4 linked regions of the Homo sapiens genome follow. The protein of the gene in region 3 interacts with the protein of the main gene of each other region in a pairwise test. Each region holds a gene or a part of one and is shown on either strand. Other genes may lie near its edges.

Region 1 (5,375 bases), on a different chromosome or scaffold from region 3:
GTTCTTAAGTTAATGGTATTTTTGCAACAGAACACTAACCTCTTGGTTCCTGGCCATTAAAATAACCACCACCCTATCAGGTAGAGCCAGGGTTTGTAGGAAGTTCAGTTAAGAGTCACAGAGGAGGTGGGAGGGAGGTGGGATGGTTAAAGTTCCCATTGCATCACAGATTATTGGCTTTCTTTCCCATGAGTGTTTGAAAGGTCAAGGGTTGGAGAGAGCCATGAAGGCAGCAGAGAAAGACGTGGAGGCTCACTCCCTGGCAAGCAATCCAGCCTGGGGAACGTCCCCATTTTGTTCCTACAGGAAAAGGTACTCAGAGAGAACAAAATGGGTTTATAGGGCTGCTAAAGGGGGTGAGGACCCCTCAGGAAAAGTTAGGATGTTGATTTGACTATAAAGAATCCTGGGCCAGGCACGGTGGCTCACACCTGTAATCCCAGTACTTAGGGGGGCCGAGAAGGGCAGATCATGAGGTCGAGAGATCAAGACCATCCTGGCCAACATGGTGAAACCCTGTCTCTACTAAAAATACAAAAATTAGCTGGGTGTGGTGGTGCGCACCTGTAGTCCCAGCTGCCCGGGAGGCTGAAGCAGAAGAATCACTTGAACCCGGGAGGTGGAGGTTGCAGTGAGCCAAGATGGCGCCACTACACTCCAGCCTGACAAAAAAGCGAGACTCTGTCAAAAAAAAAAAAAAAAAAAAAAAAAAAAGAATCCTCCTGAAAGCAGCCTCCTCCTCTATCTCAACCCCTGCCCTAAAAGAGTTGCAGAGGCCTCCACAGAGTTGAAAATACACACTCCAGCAGACTCCTGTCCACTCTGGGCATCTGCCACACGGTGCCTTGCCAGCAGGCTTTCCAGTACTGCTTCTGCTAGCCTTGGACACATGGTCTGAACCCAGTCCTGCAACGCAGAGCCTGGCCAGAGTCAGCTGGACCTGTGGGGTGACCACCATGACAGCAGAACTCTTCCATGCATCTGGTACTTCTTGAGGCCTTGTGTCCCTCCCATTGCATTCCAAATGTTCCATGGCGCTGCCACTTCACACACTAAAAGTACCTGCAGGTGCAGAGCCCCACGATTCAAGGAATTCCTCCCACAGCCCACCTGTGCAATTGGGTTCCAGCCTCGTGCTCCAGCTGGGCCCATATCTGATAGCACTCATGCATCATCCGGGTGTAAAAGTCTTCCAGGTACGCCTTTCGGATTATCCGGCTTTGTCCATGGGAGCTTCCTCGGGAGTGTGGTAGAAAGAACTGGAAGTGGAAAACAAGAGAGATGATGGAAGCCATTACCCCTCACACTGCATCCCCTGTTAAGAGCCATATCAGCATGTGCTGTCAACCAGGAGCCATTTATCCTTCAAATATTTCCACACAATCTGGGGAAGGATTATGCACAGGAAGATAATTTGAGCCCAGGAATTCAAGACCAGCTTAGGCAATATAGCAAGACCCAGTCTTCTCAAAAATTTAAAAACTATCAGGTGTGGTGGCACTTGTAGTCCCAGCTACTTGGAAGGCTGAGGTAGGAGGACTGTTTGAGCCCAGGAGTTTGAGGCTGTAGTGAACTATGATAGTACCACTGCACTCCAGCCCGTGCAATAGAGTGAGATCCTGTCCCCCCACAAAAAAAAATTCACACAATCTTTCCAAATTCTCTCTTTATGACCAATTTACTGACTTGGCAATCAAGATAGAAGTTCTTCAATAGCACTAACTTAGGCTTCCTTTTTGCTAACGTTGTTCACATCCAGAAGTTCTTTTGTTAGCTAGTCTTCAACCATCCTGCTGCAATCTCACCTCACTTAGATTCACAAAGAAGCAAAATTAGAAAAAACCTTCCAGTTCAACTACTCCAGCCCCTTCATTTTATGAACAAGGAAACTGATGCTGACTTTATTTCTCTGTGGCTACAGATCACTCAGGGTAAGAGAACCACCTCAGGATTCAGCAACAATGAGTTTCCTGAGAGGATGAACCAGGAATCCCTTGGGCTTTGAGAAAACTGATAGAGAAATGAAGAAGGTTTCTAACTACTCTGGCTCATTACCAAGAAGAGCAAACCATAGCCAGCCTGGGTAGCTGCAGGCAGAATGGAAAGGGAGAGTCCACTGCAGTGGATAGCTGGGTGGCCCTGTCCTCGAAGGACCCTGCAGACACACAGGGCCCACCCACATATGCAGTGGTCACTGCAGACTGCACTGCGTAGCAGGAAAAATAAGGCCTCAGTCTCACTTATCATGTGTCAAACAAGGAGGCTGCTATTATCTGGAGGTGGCAAAAAATAAAAAATAAAAAAAAAAAACAGAAGCTTCTGCTGGGTTCTGGTGTGAGAGGCCAGGAATATGCAAGACAGAATCCTACCTCTTAGGCTGATAAATCAACCTTTGCCTCTAGGCAAAATTATCTTTACTTTAGGTTACCTAGAGCAGAACCAATTATTTTTCTGGGGTGGGGATCAACCATTTGGGCACAGAAGGGAAAGAGTAGTGAGAAGGAAGAGAACAGGGCCTAGGACGCTTGGTCAAGGGCAGGAACTGGGAAGCAGTAGAAAGAGGAAATGTGCCTAGAAACCCAATGTGGGTATGAGGGATGTGAAACTTCTTTGAATTGCCATGAAACACACTAGGCAGCTAAGATACAAATTACACAGAATTTTTGATGATTCAGTCCCTTTGGCCTTGCCCTGTAGCCTGCTGGCTCTGAAAACCCTTCTGCAGGGGAGGAGGGTAGGACAGTCCTTACAGCTGGGGGTGCAGAAGGGACACAGTACCTGCTCCAGCAGGAGGATCCTCTTCCTGTGTTTGGCCAGGTGGTATGCAGTGAAGCAGCCCTGGATCCCCGCCCCAATCACAATGGCGTCCCAGAGATCTTTCTGAGCCGCCATGATGCCACTCAGCCCCACAGCCACAGAGCCTCAAAGGCAAAGGCAAGCAAAGACAGGCTCCCGGCTAAAGGACGAGGAGGAAGGCAAAGTCCAGCCTGGCCAGTGTTCCCACAATGCCCTGGGGTCGTGTCCTCCCGCTTCCCTCTCTGCCAAGCCTGGCCCAGGGCTCAGTCTCCCTTCCCCTGCGGAGCAGAGCTGGGTAGTCTGATTTGTGAGGTTTAGCCCAGCTCAGCCGCCAGCCTCACCCTTGCATCCCTGTGGCTTTCTATTCTTGGCTCAATTATTGTCATGCAAATGGGCTCCTTCCTTTGCCACCTTCCTGTCTCATTATGATCTTTGTCTCAGGACTTCGGCCCTGGAATTTCAATGCCTCCTAGACCATACTGGGCACCGGGAATGCTGCCTCCCCCTGCTGGTTTTCCCCTCTTCAGCCTGATTTGCTTTAGAGATTCTAGAGGGCCCCGCTAAGAACTTGGCACGATGCCCAGAATAAGACCCACCTCCCTGGTGGGTGGTGAGGTCAGGGGGTAGAGGCAGGGGCCAATTGGGAGGGCAGTTTTGTAATTATGAAATTATTCCCAGCATGTTTTACTTTCATTTTGAAGAAAGAAGAAATGATCCTGAAAAGACAGAAAGGGCAGAGTGAGAGGAGGAGCCCTCTCCTCAGCCACAGAGAGGGGACCAGGCCAGCCCAGTGCCTGGAGGGGCCCCGTGTTGAGCATCTCTCTGTCCCAGGCAGTATGCTTAGTAAGTACTGATACTGGCATTTGGGTAGGGCTTGATTGTCATACAGTTCGAGGGTACTCTTTGAGAAAAAGAAAAAAGGAGAATTATTAATACAAAATTAGATGCCCGGATGTGGAAGAAACTGTTCAATTAAGGACCCCCATGGTTGAAGTTTCATTTGCTTCATGGTAAATTTGCCTCTGCATGAGTTATCTCATTTACTCCTCATAGCCCTAGGAGTTTCTGCGGGTTTTTGTTTTTGAAGTTTTGGTTTTTGAGAGGATCTCTGGGATCTCACTGTCACGCAGGCTGGAGTGCAGTGGCACGAACTCGGCTCACTGTAGCCTCCACTTCCTGGGCTCAAGGGGTCCTCCTACCTCAGCCGCCCGAGTAGCTGAAACTACAAACGCATGCCACCATGCTCAGCTAATTTTGTTTATTTTTTGTAGAGACGAGGGCTCACTGTGTTGCTCAGGCTGGTCTCGAACTCCTGGACTCATACAATCCTCCCACCTCATCCTCCCAAAAGCTTGGATTACAGGTGTGAGACACTGCACCTGGCTTAGGAGTATTTTTATGCCTACTTTTGGCAGATTAAGGATGGCCCCAAATTCTTTTTCACTCCTTCTATCACAGACTCTGTGACTGCTTGACCCATAAAATATGGCAAAAGTGATACCATGACACTTTCTGGCACAGCCCTAAAGAGACTGGCAGCTTCCTCTTCTTATGTTGGAGCCCTTACTTTTTTTTTTTTTTTGAGAGGGAGTCTCGTTTTGTCATCCAGGCAGGAGAGCAGTGGCACTATCTTGGCTCACTGCAACCTCTGACTCGTGGGTTCAAGCGATTCTTCTGCCTCAGCTTCCCGAGTAGCTGGGCCTACAGGCGAGCGCCACTACACCCAGCTAATTTTTCATATTTTTAGTAGAGACGGGGTTTCACCATATTGGCCAGGCTGGTCTCGAACTCCTGACCTCATGATCCGACCACCTCGGCCTCCCAAAGTGCTGGGGTTACAGGCATGAGCCACCGCACCTGGCCAAGGAGCCCTTACTCTCTGAGCCCTGAGCCACCATGTTAGAAGTGCAGGCACCCTATGGGAGAGTTCACATGGAGAGGACCTGGGACCAGGTGGAGAACTCTATATAAGAATGAAGTTATCTTGGTTTGGGAGGCTGAGTCAGGAAGGATCGCTTGAGGCCAGGAGTTCCAGACAAACCTGTGCAACATAGCAAGACCTTGTCTCAAAGAAAAGTGAAGTCATCTTGGTTCCTCCAGCCCAGCCTAGCACCAGCCAAATAGTACCAAGTGACCCAATTGATGCTGCATAGTGCAGAAGAATCACCCAGTCAAGCTTCATTCCTGATCCACAAAACCATGAAACAGAATAAAATGGTTGTTGTTTTCAGCCACAACATTTTGGGGAGGTTTTTTACACAGCCATAACCAAAATATTACTTAATGGCTGAAGACGTGAAGGCTTAGAGAGATTCTATCTTACCCAAAGCAACACCCCTGGTATACAAAGACACTGAGGCTGGGCACAGTGGCTCACGTCTGTAATCCCAACACTTTGAGAGGCCGAGGCGGGAGAATCACTTGAGGCCAGAAGTTTGAGACCAGTCTGGGCAACATAGCAAGACCGCATCTCTACAAAAAATGTTAAAAATTAGCCAGGGATGGTGGTGCATGCCTGTAGTCTTACTTACTTGGGAGGCTGAGGCAGGAGGGTCACTTGAGCCCAGGAGTTTGAGGCT
Region 2 (4,459 bases), on a different chromosome or scaffold from region 3:
AGCCTTTAAAAAGATGCCCACCTCTGTACCCTCAAAACTGGAGGGTGCTCAGAGCCAGACTCCCCACTTCTGCTGCAGCCAGGTGCATCTTGCCGGCACAGCCGCTGACCACCCCAGGACGGCAGCAGGCTCCCACCTCACCTTGCTGCTGCACCACGCGGTGATGCACTCCCAGCAGAACAGGTGGCCGCAGGGCGTGGCTGTTGGGTGCCTGCGCTCCTCCAGGCACAGGGTGCACAGGGGGTTTCTGGAAACGGCTCTCTCCTCCAAGGAGGCCCTGGGGAAGGTGGGGCAGAGCGTCAAGGTGGGTGCACCTTACAGGTCCTTGTGAAGTGCCCAGGACACCCCCAGCCCCCATGTGTGGCCCCCGCACGCACCTGCGGTGAGACAGGCCGCGGTGCAGCCTCCACTCCTTCCTGGCTCGCTGCCGCTGCCTGAAACCGTACAGCTGCAGCCCCATGGACAGCACCAGGTGCAGCAGTGAGATGACCCCCAGCAGCCTGTAGCTAACACGGGCCCTCAGGTCCTCTCCGGGCAGGCTGCGGACACGGAGCTGTAAGGCAGATGGCGCCACACTCATCAGGACCCTGAGGGGATCTGGCCTCAGCGCCTGCTGGGAGGGTCACACGTTCAGTTGGCACAGAGCACGTTAGAACCAGGCCTCTCACTGGCATGGGGAGTGCCCGGCAGAAACGATCAAGCCAGGGGGCAGGTTCAGGGAGTCTGAGGTGCCTGCTTCGTAGCCTAGCATGACGGAGAGGCCTGAGCTCCAGACCAGCCTTGGCATTACCAGTGCAGAAAGAGTCTTAGCTATGAGGCTGGCAGAGCAGGTGAGGATGTGGGGATGTCCAGGGACCACCTCTCAGAAAAGGAGGCGGGGAGCGGAAATGTGGGGCTGCAGACGCTGCCCACCAGCTACCCTGCTACAGGGACCGAAGCCCCAGTGTAACAAGGCACGTGGCCCCAGGGACACTGCTGCCACCCTCCTGCTGGTGACACAGGTAGCTTCTGACCGTGCCACTGAAGGACAGCTGGCTGCCCTCGGCTTCCCGTGTCACTTTCCACTGGCTGGGAAATGGAGACAGCCAGACAGCCTCGGCCCAGGGCCGGGAACCACATACAGAGGTGGCAGGTCACACCGCCAGCATGGGCCCTGGGTGTCCAGCCACTTCCTGGCTGTCCTAGGAGAGAGGGAGCCTCCCATCTGGTTTGAGCCCCACTTCCATGCCCCTGTCACAGCAGCTCATCAAATCCCTCACCAACATGGACGGGGCAAGAAACCACATCAAATACGCAAGTGAGGCTGGGTACGCTGAGGACGAAGACCTGACCATTGGCTCTGCGACGAGGTCACGGTGGCCTCCTGTTTAGGGTGTGTGTGGAGGCGGGGTTGCCTGGCAAGTAGGGGCTGAGGGGACCAGTGCAGCTCTAGGGACAAAAGGAAGGGGGTTCCTCAGAGGGCTGTTCTGGAAGGAGCTCATGCAGTAGTGGCTCTGGTGGGCCAGGGACTAACGCTGTGGCAGGTGGACATGGTGGTGGGACCACGGGGGAGGCTTCGTTGCTGAATCTGGAAGCAGGGGCATCAGCTGGGGGTCAGGATAGGCAGAGGTGCCAACGGCTGTGGAGGGGAGAAGGTGGGAACGGCCGTCTGATGGGGCAGACTGCTGGGCCAGGCAGGGGCGAGGGGTGAGGGGCTGGGGCCGGGGCTGCAGTCCATGCTCCCACACTGTCTGGGAGAAGCTGTTTGTTCCCCACAGCAGTGACATAGGCAGTCACGGGCCCAGGTTCAGGGATCTGTGGTGAGGCGTGACCCGGGGCCCCCCGGTCAGTAAAGAGCTAAGCGCAGGGCCCGGTGTCCATGAGGGGCTGCAGCAGGAGTTCATTCTACACTTAGGGTCTGGACTTCCTTGGATCTTTCAGCCAAGTGTAATTAAACAAAATCTGCTTTTTTTCCAAGCAGAGGATTTGGGTTCCTGCCTTGACACAGATGCTGGATGTAGAACCCTGTTGGCTGAGAGGCCTGGAGGGCCAGCTCTGTGCATGCACCCAAGTCCAGTGGGGGTGACAAGGACGGCCTAAGCAGCTGTGCCCTCAGCGCCTGCTACTTACGTACGTGATCCCCGTGAGCCTCTTGGCCAGGTGGTAGAAGACACCGTGGATGTAAAACCAGGCAACATGTAGCCGCTGGAGGCAGGCGAGGCCCTGTCTGAGGACGAAGACCGCCCGCAGCAGCGCCCTCCTCTGCTGCTCAGTCAGGGTGGCCGTGTGGTGACGCATCCAGCGCCGCGCCCCTGAGCAGCCACGCCCACCTGGCCCCAGGCTCCCCTGCAAGGGTCGCCCACTGTCGGGGTCAGCCTGCAGCTCCTGCTCCAGGGGGAGCAGGGCCTTGTCCAGCAGGTAGGGCAGGACGGCATGCAGTGTCACCAGCACGCCACGGCGCAGCGAGGAGGGCACATGTATCCGCGATGGGTCCACCTGGATGATGCTGACGTACTCCTCCCCCAGGGTCTGGTAGCCTGCGAGGAAGAGGATGGGTATGTGGACCCTGAGACTGCTGCCGCGGGGACAGGCTCCCGGCGCCCCTGCCAGCCGACCCTCTGCTGGCTCCTGTCAACAGCCCCATCTTGTCGCCCTTGAGCCCACTGTCACCCCGTGCTGGCTGAGGCCAACATGACCTTCTGTCGCTAAGCCCACTGTGAGCTCAGGCAGCACATGACAGGCCCGGCCAATGGCTGCCCTTGGCTCCCAGGGCCTTGGCTGGCCAGTGTCCCTCCCTCTCTTGGCTTCTCCCCAAGAGTCTCTGCTCTTTCCCCTTTCTCCCTAGCTGTCCCCGCCACCTCCCCCAGCCCAAGCACTCGGATCCAGTCCCATGGCTCTCCACCAACCACACAGCTGGCACCACCCGATTTATGCCCAGCCTGGACCTTACTTGTGAGTGCCAGCCATGCAGGTCCGCCACCTACCTGACATCGCCATGTATGCTCAGATGAGCACCCCAATTCCACCCCTGCCGAGACAGCTTTCAGCGCCCCCACCCAGAAAAGCCTGCTCCCCGTTTCCATCTCTGTGGATGGCAACGCCAGGCCTCCGGTTCCTGAGGTCAAGCCCAAGGGGCACCCTGCATGCACCTTCCCTGTGTGTTCCACCCCCTCGCTGCCGCCCCTGCTCTGTACCACCACCATCCTGTGGGGGACTGTCACAGCCTCTGTAGTCTCCCTGAGCCCAACTTTGTCCCCTGAGGTCTGGTCTTAGCTAGTGGTCGGCCTCTCCCCTGCCCACGTCCCTGGAATGCCCCAAGCCTCGCACAGGGAAAGCTATGGGCTTACAAAACTCACGAGCCCCCCGGGGTCATTCTCCCAAACCGCCAAGGACGTGTTCTTCTCAGGGCCTTTCCCGGCTGCTTGCTCTGCCGGTCTGGAAAATGCTCTTCCCTAAGACGTGGTCTTTATCTCTGAGAGCCCCTCACTTCCCAAGATGCTCTGTGACGCAGCCACATCTGTCTCCCGCCCACCGAGCACACTCTCCATGGCGGCAGGATGCCCGGGGCGAGCCCCTCGTAGGGAACCAGGCTGGCACTCGGTGGTCCTTGCTACATGCTGAGCTGGGGTTGGGAGCCTGAGAGCTTCTGTCAACAACTCCCTCTAAAGGGTGGTGACCAGCCTGGGCCACAGACCCACCACTGCTCCACCAGGGCACTGTCACACGGGCACTGCACCCTATGACATGGCTCAGCACTGTGACTCACTGGTGCCACCAGGGCTGGCCACTGAGAAATGGGTCTCAGTGGCACCCGGGGTAAAGTCTTAAACAAAGAACCCCAGGGACACACAAAGGCTGGAAAAGTCGGCTCCCTGCTGGGAGCAGATGCCTCGCCTCCCTCGGAGCAGTACCTCCTGCACTTCCCTGAAGCAACCTCACCCGGGCCAGCTCCAGGAGCTTCTCACACTGCCTGGCAGCCCCCTGGCCACCGTCCCCAGACTTGGTGTGTGTGGCTGCCCTCAGTCCTGAGGTCCCGTGGGAGCTTCTACCTGCAAGTGTGGTGAGGCCAAAGTAGGCCACATCTGAGAGCAGCTCAACCTCCTTCCTCCACTCCAGCCACTTCCTCGCACCTGAGAGGAGAAACAGTATTAGTCCGGGGGAGCTGGTGGGCATCCTCTGAGGATGAGGGACCACAGTCCTCCCCCAGTTGTCTAGGCCCAGATCCAGTCCCACCCCTTCCATGAAGCCAACACTCACTCCCTGGCCTCCCTCTCTGCTTCTGTCTCCGGAGGCACCACCTTGACTTGCCTTAGCGTGAGCTGCAGACAGTCTGCGAAGAATCTCCCACCTGTGCTCATCTCTTGCTCCGGGATTCCCCTGAGCAACTGTTCTAGGGCCTATGAGGGCCACATGGAAAGATGGTCTGGGGTATTAAGATTACAGGCCAGAGGCCAACTGTCTAGCATCAAAAAGCAGCTCT
Region 3 (5,558 bases):
TCTTTGTATCCTCCACAGCACCAATTTCAGTACCTTGTAAACAGGTAATGTGCACTATTAAACTGAACAATAAACTAATCAGCAAGCCTATTTTTGCTATATATTCCTCTGCCAGTTTTGAAGCTCTTAACTGAAAATATAACTGGAAACAGTAAATACAAATCAATATAAAGAAAACTAACAAATCTATTCTTGAAATTTGAGATTGTTATATGGTATCTGAACCTGTTCCCTTACAGTTCTCTTACCTGTTACTTCATCACTGTGAGTAGACAATAGTTTCCAAATGAGGTAAGGACCACCAAGGATAACAGCAAAGAACAAGAATATTGGCCAAGATTTTGCTGAGGTAGCTGCTCGGTCCTCAGCACCAAGGCATGCCACAGTTCCTTCACTCTCTGCCCAGAGGTCTTCATTCTCAGAGCCTCTTCTTAAACCTAACATCCGCTGTAGCCGTCTGTAAAGATACCGTATAGTCCTAACCAATGCAAAAGCTGAAAACACTTTTGTAAAGTGTATTTTCAATCGGGAAAAGTGATTTGCTACATCCAATACAGCCCTGAAACTGTTATAGACAGCTGAAAAGGTAGCATCCATCATCATACTGACAGAGGCAAATGCATGCACAATACTTTCAATGGACTGAAATGCACCCCTGCTGCTTTCTTCAGCTTGCTGAACAAATCTACTGGGTGGAAGATCATCTACACGGAGGCGGTTGTAGCCCAGCCCATTATATCCATAACTATAAGGACTATAGCCTCCATAAAATGAATTTCCATAGGCACCATATCCAGAAGAAAATGAACTGTAAGCAGGTCTAAAAGTGTTCACACTGCTACTTCCTGTCTGCTGTGATGGCCTTGGAAGAATAGGTGGGGGCACTCTGGTAAGTGCTGGTTGTCCAGGTCTTGTCATTAAAGTAGGACCCAAATCAGCAGATCTAAAACCAAAAAAGATTCAAAACAGTTATTTAAGCATACAATAAATTCAATTCAAAGTAAGTATTAAACATCTCCTATATACCTGGTGCTATGACAAATTCTACTGAAGACTGATTAATTGATTTAGAGACAGGGTCTCACTCTGTTGCCCAAGCTGGAGTGTAGTAGCACAATCAAAAGCTCACTGTAGCCTCAACCTCCCAGGCTCAAGTGATCCTCCCACCTCAGCCTCCTGAGCAGTTGGGACTACAGGTGCATGCCACCACACCTGGCTAATTTTTTATATTTTTTGTAGAGATGGGGTTTCACCATGTTTCCCAGGCTGGTCTCAAACTCCTGGGCTCAAACGATCCATCTGCCTTGGTTTCCTAAAGTGCTGGGATTACAGGTGTGAGCCACTGTGCCCAGGCATCACTTTAAAGTTTAAAATTTAATAGGTTTTAGTACACTCACAGAGGTGTGTAACTATCACCATGTCTAATTCAGAAGATTTTCATCACCTCAAAAAAGAAACCCCATATTCATTAGCAGCTATTCCCCATTTCCTGCCCACCCCTCCACCCATCTTTGGCAACCATGAATCTACCTTCTGTCCCTCGGTTTGTCTATTCTGGACATTTCATATATAGTTAATTCTTGTTATTTAAGATAGTTATATCCTGTAAAGTTGCTGTGAACTCTGAACCAGCAGATACCAAATCACTGCTTCTTTCATCAACCAATCAATACATATACTTATTTTATATGTTTCTGTTTAAAGTCACTTTATTCCAGGTATATTGTTAACTCATTAACAACTCATGGCCAACAGCACAATAGCCCATGCCTGAATGAAGCTTATCTAACACCTGTATTTTCTCTGTAAGGCACACTACAGCATTCCTGTGCTTAGGAACACTAGAGATCACTTCAGCACTATGCTTGGGGGCCATTTTAGACAGCAAAATCACCATAAAAAAATGTGAAAAAACCTGGCACTAAACAGACTTTGATAAAGACAACTGTTTACAGCATGAGAGCTGAAATAAGAAACCAGAGTGTTGCTTTTTTGTCTCTCAGTTGTCCCTCAGTTGTCAGCTGAGGGACAACTCAGATTTTTACCTGATGTACGTTTGTCCTCAAATGACTGTGATAGTGCCAGGAATATTGATTTTCAGATTACAAATAAATTTTAGTGAGCAGACCAATTTGAAAATACAGAATCCACAAATAATGAGGATCTATGGTAAATGGACTCATACAATACGTAGTATTTTGTGACTGGCTTCTTTCACTTAGCATAATGTTTCCAGGGTTTATCCATTTTATAGCATGTATCAGCACAGGCAGCCCTTGGTATCTGTGGGGGAGTGGTTTCAAAATCTCCTTCAGATACCAAAATCCATGAATGCTCAAGTCCTTAATATAAAATAGTATAGCATTTGCATATAACCTATGCACATCCTCCTGTATACTTAAAATCATCTCTAGCTTATAGTATCTAATACACTGTAAATGTATGTAATTACTTATACTGTAGTGTTTAGGAAATAATGACAAGGAATAAAGTCTGTACATGTTCAGTACAGATGCAGTTTTTTTTTTTCTGAATACTTTTTTTTTTTAAGAGACAGGGTCTCACTCTATTGTCCAGGCTAGAGTGTTGTGGCATGATCATAGCTCACCGCAGCCTCCAACTCCTGGCCTCAAGTGATCCTCCCACCTCAGCCTCCCAAAATGTCAGGATAACAGGTGTTAGCCAACACGTCTGGCCTATTTTCCGAATATTTTTGATCCACAGTTGGTTGATCAGATGTGGAAGGCCAACTGTATTTCATTAATTTTTATTGCCAAATTATATTTATTCACACATCAGCTTATGTATATTGGGGCTGTTTTTACTTCTTGGCTATTACAAATAATGCTGCAATGACCATTTATGTACAAGTTTTTGTACGGACATGTTTGCTGGGTTATATGGAAACTCTATATTTAGCCTTTTGAGGAACTGCCAGATTGTGTTCCAAAGCAACTGTACCATTTTACATTCTCGCCAATGTATGAGGATTTCCAATTTCTCCACATCCTTGGCCACATCTGCTCTTATATTTTTCATTATAGCTATCCTAGTGGGCGTGAGGTGGTATTTCACTGTGGTTTTAATTTGCATTTTCTTGACGGCTAATGATGTTGAGCATATTTTCATGTGCTTATTGGTCGTTTTACAATCTTATTTGGAAAAATATGTATTCAGATACTTTGCCCACTTTTAAGTTCGCCCTCTTTTTTTTTTTTTTTTGGAGACAGGGTCTCCCTCTGTCATTGAGGTTGGAGTGCAGAAGCGCAAACACAGCTCAAGTAATCCTTCTGCCTCAGCTTCCTATGTAGGTGAGACCACCACTCCCGGCTAACTTTTTGGTAGAGATGAGGGTCCCACTTTGTTGCCCAGGCTGGTCTCAAATACCTGGGTTCAAGCAATCCTTCCACTTCTACCTCTCAAAGTGCTGGGATTACAGGCATGAGCCATTGTACTTGGCTTAGCCTTTTTATCACTGCTTTTTAAATTATTGTGCTACATGAGTCAAAAATATCTTTAAAAATTTTTTTGAACAAAAATTCAATTAAGGCTCACACACTGCATTTGGTTGGTTTGTTTCCTTTCTTTTCTAAATGAGAACAATCCCATTTTTTCAAATATCCCTGACCTTCTAAAGAGTCAACCCAGTTTTTTTCTAGAAATGTCCTACCCCCAGCCCAGGCATGGTGGCTCATGCCTGTAATCCCAGCACTTTGGGAGGCTGAGGCAGGCGGGTCCCCTCAGGTTAGGAGTTCGAGACCAGCCTGGCCAACATGGTGAAACCCCGTCTCTACTAAAAATACAAAAATTAGCCGGACGTGGTGGTGGGTGCCTGTAGTCCCAGCTACTCGGGAGGCTGAGGGAGAATCGCTTGAACCCCAGAGGCGGCTGTTGCAGTGAGCTGAGATCATGCCACTGCCCTCCAGTCTGGGTGACACAGTGAGACTCTGTTTCAAAAAAAAAAAAAAAGAAAAGAAAGAAATGTCCTACCCCCAGATTTGTGTTTCCCCCAAGTGTTGTTTAACTTGTACTCTTATTTCGCCTCCTATTAAATTAAGATTGCATTTAACGGTTTGATTGCAATCAGGTTCAATATTTTTTGGCAAGAATAATTCATAAGTGATGTTGTTTACTTCACACAGTATTACTTTAGGAGGCGCATTTGTGAAGCTAAATTTGATTAGTTGGTTAAGGAGGTGACTATTAGATCTTTCCATTAAAATGTATCTTTCCCTTTGTAATTAGTATATAATCTATGGGATGACAGTTTTGTACCACAAATATTCTATTCCTCAGCAACTGTTCATTTGATAGTTTAGCATCGATTCATCATCCTTGCCTGAAACAAATATTAGATGTGGAACTGCAAAATGGTAATTTTCTAATCCAGGCTAAAGTTTTAATTTAGACTTGTATCGTAATATTATAAACAAGCTACTAGAACTCTATTTTTTTTTCTTTTATTGGATCTGATATTTAAAAATGGAACAAAACTTAAAAGGAGCCAGTGAACGGCCAGATAGTGCAGTGCATTCAGGCTTTAATGAAACAGTTCTGCTCCCAAGTATAAGCAATAATAGAGAAAACAGAGAGACAAACAAACAGACATTATCTAGATTTAACACAAGACAGACTTATGGAAGAGAAACTAAACAGAAATGTAAAATGGTAAGGAGGGCTGAAGCTACGGGCCTACTCAATTCTGGTTCTGTAATCAGGCAGTGACAGCCAAGATGCAGGCTTCAATGAAGTAACAAAAACGAAAAGTGCTCCATTAAAATGGAACCAGTTCAATGCTTGAGGCTGGGAATGAGGATGTGCCACCTTGACTCCTACAAAGAGATTATAAAATTTGCTGATGACAGTTTAATATTTTGAGAAAGTTACAGAACTAAGAGAGGGAGAGGACTGTGATAAGGCCTCCAGCCCAGGAAATGAAACAACTGACCGACTTGATGTGTGATATCCTTAATCTAACTCGCTGTTTTTGTGTGTGTGTGTGTGTTTTGTTTTTTTTTTTTTTGAGACAGAGTCTCACTCTGTCACCCAAGCTGGAGTTCAGTGGTGCAATCACGGCTCACTGCAACCTCAAACTCCTAGGCTCAAGCGATCCCTCCCACCTCAGCTTCCCAAGTAGCTGGGACTACAGGCGTGCACCACCATGCCTGCCTTTTTTTTTTTTTTTCTTTTTGATATTTTTTGTAGAAATGGGTTCTCGCTACATCTTGAGAGGCTGGTTTCCAACTCCTGGGCTCAAGCAATCCTCCTGCCTTGGCCTCCCAAAGAGCTAAGATTACAGGTGTGAGCCACCATGCCCAGTCTGACCCACTGTTTTTACACCTGATTCTTACCTAAGTGGTAGGTAGAGGGAACAGGGAGAGGCAACAGGACACCTATTAGATAGAGAGAGGGGAACATGGAAGAGGGAAAGGAGAGAAAACAGAACTCCAAAATTACTACTCAAAATGACCATCTCAAAAATGCCACACACATGAAGAAATAAAAACACTAAGAAACAAAGCCAACAAAAATCAGCAAGTATAAAACCCAATTTAAAA
Region 4 (4,914 bases), on a different chromosome or scaffold from region 3:
ACAAAATGCCACAGAGCACATGATTCCATTTCTAGGACATGTCCAGATAGGCAAATCCACAGAGACAGGAAGCAGATGAGTGGGTGCCAGGGGCTGGAGAGAGGGAATGAGGAGTGACTGTTCATGGGTCTGGGGTTTCTTTGGGGGATAAAATAAAAATAAAACATTCTGGAGTTAGTGATGATGGCTGCACAACTCTGTGAATGAATTTAAACTGTACATGGAAAAGGAAGAATTGTATAGTATGTTAATTACGTCTCAATAACGTTGATTTTTAAATGCACCAGTAGGCATCTGGTTTTGTTTCTACGTACAGCCAGCTCCTTCCACCGGCCCTCTGTCCTGCACCACTGATGTCGCCCCTCCTGGGGCACATCTGAACTTTGTCATCCAACGCCCAGAGCTGTTTGGCTTTGAAACGCCAACTTTCTTTTTTTTTTCTTTTCTTTTTTTTGAGATGGAGTCTTGCTCTGTTGCCCAGGCTGGAGTGCAGTGGTGTGATCTTGGCTCACTGCAACCTCTGCCTCCCCAGGTTCAAGGGATTCTTGTGCCTCAGCCTCCCGAGTAGCTGGGATTACAGGCACCCGCCACCAAGCCCAGCGAATTTTTTTTGTATTTTTAGTAGAGACGAAGTCTCACCATGTTGGCCAGGCTGGTCTCAAACTCCTGAACTCAGGTGATCCACTTGCCTTGGCCTCCAAAGATGCTGGGATTGCAGGCATGGGCCACCACGCCCGGCCTAATGTCCCACTTCCTGACCGCCCCCTCTAGGCCATGGTTTTTGACCTCTGGGCCAGCAGCCGTATTGTTTGGTGTCTGCTTCTCCCAGGAGCTGCTCCTGTCTTAATTTGCTTTTCTGTCACACTCTAGGCCCCGTGGCAGCACCCCTGACCCTCATCAATGGCCTTGACTCTCAGTTTCTTGATCCTTAGATTCCCCACAGGAGCAGAGGTGGGGAGCAAGGGCGAAGGCCGCCTCTGAGGGTGCTGGGGTGTGGCTGAAGTGGTGGGAATGTCCTGTGAAGGACCCGAGGACTGTATCCAGGGGTGGGTGTGATCCTGAGGGGGAAGCCTCAGGGATCATTGGCTGGGGGCTGGGGGAAGACACGGAACGCAGTATCCGCTCAGGGCCATGCAGGGTGGAAAGGGGCCTGGCCCGGGAAACCAGGGAACTAGATTGGGCTGGCGGGGCGGGGATGTGAATCCTAAAGGTCGAAGGCCTTGGACCTTCCTTCCCACGGTGCTCTCAAGGACACAGCCCTCCTCCCCAGGTGTTCTGAGAGCTGGACAGTCGCTGTGGACAAAGGGAAGGGTCTGCAAGTCTTTGTGCCCAGGGCATCCTGGCGTAGAACCAGCTGCCTTCTGCAGGTTCTCTTGGAGCCTTGGGTGAATAAGGCCAGGGCCCCAGAGCTGGACAGAGCAAGGCCTCAGGGCTGGAGTGGGAGCCACAGGCCCTGCCCATCTCCTGAGCCCACCTGCCTTGCACACCAGCCCAGCAAAGCTTATCTAAATCTTCCAACCGGTAAGAGCCTGCCTTCCCACCCAGTGCGCTCCACCTCCTTGAAGCACCTGGAGCCCTCACTAGCCACCCGATGCAGGGGACACAGCAGGGACAAAACAGACAAAAATCCCTGACCCCATGGAGCTTGCAGTCCATGGCAGGGAGAGAGAAAAGCGCCACTGACGGGGTGTCGAGTGCTTGGGAGAGCAGTGGGGCAGGGAAGGAGACAGGAAAGGTGGCGGTGGGCAGGCCGGGCCTTGCCTAGGGGGGCTGCGCCATGGGGCAGCAGAGGAAAGAGTGCTCCTGGCACAGGCCCCAAGACAGAGCAGGCCTGGCATTTGGGGAAATAAGAAGGCCACAGGACCAGGCACAGTGGCTCACACCTATAATCCCAGCACTTTGGGAGGCCGAGGCAGGTGGATCACTTGAGGTCAGGAGTTCAAGACCAGCCTGACCAACATGGCGAAACCCCATCTCTACTAAAAACACAAAAATTAGCCAGGCATGGTGGCGTGTACCTGTAGTCCCAGCTACTTGGGAGGCTGAGGCAGGAGAATCACTTGAACCCGGGAGATGGAGGTTGCAGTGAGCCAAGATCGTGCCACTGCACTCCAGCCTGGGAGACAGAGTGAGACTCCATCTCAAAAGCTCCCCCTCCAAAAAAAAACAGACGGCCACAGGACAGAGCCTATCAAGCCAGGGGAAAGGGAATGCTTCACAGCCTTCAAAGGCTGCTGGCTCTGAGGACCACCAGAGCAGGGCCAGGAGCCCACAAAGCCTGGCACAGCAGAGGCTCAGAAAAGTCCTAAGCCTTCAGGGCAGGGAGCAGCCCGATGTGACCAATGGCAGCCATGGAGCGAAGCGGCTGCAGGTGCTGTCTCGCGGGCTGTCTCGGTGCCCGGGGCTAGGTGCGCTGACTGGGCTGGGCACCTACGCCAGCATCAAGGCTGCCCTTGATGTGCAGTCCCCGAATTAGATCCTTCCTCTTGGTGAGTCACCCAGAGGATGACACAGACAGTTGAGGGCATGGAAGCCCCGAGGTGGAAACAGGAACAGGGAGAGAATCAGACTTCTGTTTATAAATCGAAAACCCTCTTCCCACCAAACTGGGTAAACTACGACACTATTTCGAGCAGAGCCAAGCTTGACGGAAAGCAAGGGAAACTTCTGGGAGCAAAGAGAAGCAGACAGCCAGGTGATCCTTTGATAGCCCCAGAGGCAGGCAGGGCAAAGACCAGGAAGCTTTCCTTGCTTAGCCTGGGCTCTATGCCCAATGAACAAAAAGCCTCCTCTGAAAATTTGTAACAATGTGCCTGGAGTTCAAATGAATTCAAATGAAACCACCTCTCAATTCAGGAACCATCCCCTCCGCACTAACTAATGGCCTCCAACTGCTTACCCTGGAGTGCTTGGCCAAAACAGAAGGACATTTGGACTTACACCCTCCATTGAGGCCACACCAATCCCCATAGAAGTTCTGTTGCAAAACCCACAAGGAAATGATCCACCATGAGTGAAGACCAGCAGACAGAAGACAGGCGAATGATACTCCCAAGAACTGAAGCTAACCAAACCATCAGATAGAGACGGTGGGGTAAGTATGACTAACCTGATACACAGTATAAAAGGAGCAGTCAAAAAGATGAGCAAATAAGACACAGAAACAGCCTGACATTTCTACTTGAAAAAGGAAATGTCCATTTTCAAATTCCTATTTGAAATAGAATGAAATAGAACTTACAAAACAGCCACTGAAATGTGAACAAAATTCCAATTAGACATGGCCAAAGAGAAAACTGGTGAACTGGAAAATGAGCAAACAGGAAGGCCTCAGGGCATCCCCAGAATTCAGCACAGACAGTGTGAGATGGGAAACAGTAAACAGAAACCGAAAGACACAACGAAGAGAGTCAGAAGTCCAGCACTGGCTGCCAGTTCTAGAAGAACAGGAAAAAAGAATGAGAGTCAGGCAATATCTGAAAAGCTAATAGCTGAGAATCTTCCAGAATGATTGAAAAACTCAAATATTCAAAGGACATATAACAAGTCTCAAGCAGAATCAACAAAAACTGACACCTAAACATGTCATAGTGAAACTGCAGAATGCCAAAAAGAAAGAAAGTGATCAAAGTACCCAGAAAAAAAGAAACACAGGGTACTCAGGGAGGACAATTTGTTAGCAGCTACAGATTTGTCAGCAGCTACAGAAGAAGCAGGGAGACAATGAGACATTGTGAAAGGGCTGAGAGAAAAGAACAGTCCACCTAGACTCCATTGCGCAACTCAACTTTAGCTTGGGAATAAGGGTGAAATAGAAACATTTTCAACAAAAATAATCAAGAATGACAACAGCCTGGGTGTGGTGGCTCACGTCTGTAATCCCAGCACTTTGAGAGGCTAATGCGGGAGGACCGCTTGAGCCCAGGAGTTCCACACTAGCCTGGGCAACACAGCGAGAACCTGCCTCTACAAAAAACAAACAAACAAACAAAAAACTAAACAACACAAAGAATTACAATAAAATAATCAAGAATTTCCCATGACAAAACCCTTGCTGAAAGAACCTTTTTTAAAAACCAACCACAACTAGAAGCACTGATGACTGTTTGTCCTGAGCATAGTTGTGAGTTAAAAAACAAACAAACAAAAAACTAAAAACATGTCTATCTGGAGGAAGATAACAGAACATAGAAGAGAAATTGAGATGTAGGAACGAAATGGTGAGCACAGAACTCAGCAAACATGCGAGTGAGTTTCAACACGTGTGGATAAGGCGATAGCAAAGAGGAAAAACTAGGTACAAATCCAACTCTTGGCTGGGCTATGATGCCATGCCCCACGGGGCTGCTTCTGCGTTCTAAGGTCCAGGAGAAGGCGGAGCTATTGATTAACCTAACAAGTATGCGTGTTGATCTTTTATTTTTTATTTTTATTTTTATTTGAGACGAAGTCTCGTTCTTTCGCCCAGGCTGGAGTGCAGTGGCGCTATCTGGGCTCACTGCCAGCTCCGCCTCCCGGGTTCACGCCATTCTTCTGCCTCAGCGTCCCGAGTAGCTGGGACTATAGGCGCCCGCCACCGCGCCCGGCTAAATTTTTGTATTTTTAGTAGAGATGGGGTTTCACCCTGTTAGCCAGGATGGTCTCGACCTCCTGACCTCGTGATCTGCCCGCCTCACCCTCCCAAAGTGCTGGGATGCCAGGCGGGAGCCCCCGCGCCCGGCTGCGTGTTGACCTTTTAAAGGGTGACCACTAATGGACTAAAAATCAAATGCAGAAGTTGCAATCCGGCAGAGGAACAAAACAGGAATGCAGGCCGGGCGCGGCAGCTCACACCTGTAATCCCAGCACTTTGGGAGGCTGAGGCGGGAGGATCACCTGACCAGGAGTTCGAGACCAGTCTGGGCAACATGGCGA

The links. Proteins that work in one complex are often made in the same cells at the same time.
Region 1: the proteins of PEX13 (region 3) and PIPOX come close enough for resonance energy transfer, tested with the Homo sapiens proteins (one large-scale study listed by BioGRID).
Region 2: the proteins of PEX13 (region 3) and PEX10 come close enough for resonance energy transfer, tested with the Homo sapiens proteins (one large-scale study listed by BioGRID).
Region 4: the proteins of PEX13 (region 3) and ABCD1 come close enough for resonance energy transfer, tested with the Homo sapiens proteins (one large-scale study listed by BioGRID).

The regions. Positions count from the first base shown.
Region 1 is NC_000017.11:29,040,743-29,046,117, reverse strand, and holds the start of PIPOX (peroxisomal sarcosine oxidase), read right to left. Parts: upstream 2,978-5,375; 5' UTR 2,893-2,977; coding exon 2,779-2,892; intron 1,260-2,778; coding exon 1,111-1,259; intron 1-1,110. UniProt on the Homo sapiens protein: Metabolizes sarcosine and L-pipecolic acid.
Region 2 is NC_000001.11:2,406,343-2,410,801, forward strand, and holds part of PEX10 (peroxisome biogenesis factor 10), read right to left. Parts: intron 4,110-4,459; coding exon 4,029-4,109; intron 2,517-4,028; coding exon 2,110-2,516; intron 614-2,109; coding exon of another isoform or gene 554-613; coding exon 378-553; intron 278-377; coding exon 142-277; intron 1-141.
Region 3 is NC_000002.12:61,026,804-61,032,361, reverse strand, and holds part of PEX13 (peroxisome biogenesis factor 13), read right to left. Parts: intron 944-5,558; coding exon 249-943; intron 1-248. UniProt on the Homo sapiens protein: Component of the PEX13-PEX14 docking complex, a translocon channel that specifically mediates the import of peroxisomal cargo proteins bound to PEX5 receptor.
Region 4 is NC_000023.11:153,730,119-153,735,032, reverse strand, and holds part of ABCD1 (ATP-binding cassette sub-family D member 1), read right to left. Parts: intron 182-4,914; exon of another isoform or gene 1-181. UniProt on the Homo sapiens protein: ATP-dependent transporter of the ATP-binding cassette (ABC) family involved in the transport of very long chain fatty acid (VLCFA)-CoA from the cytosol to the peroxisome lumen.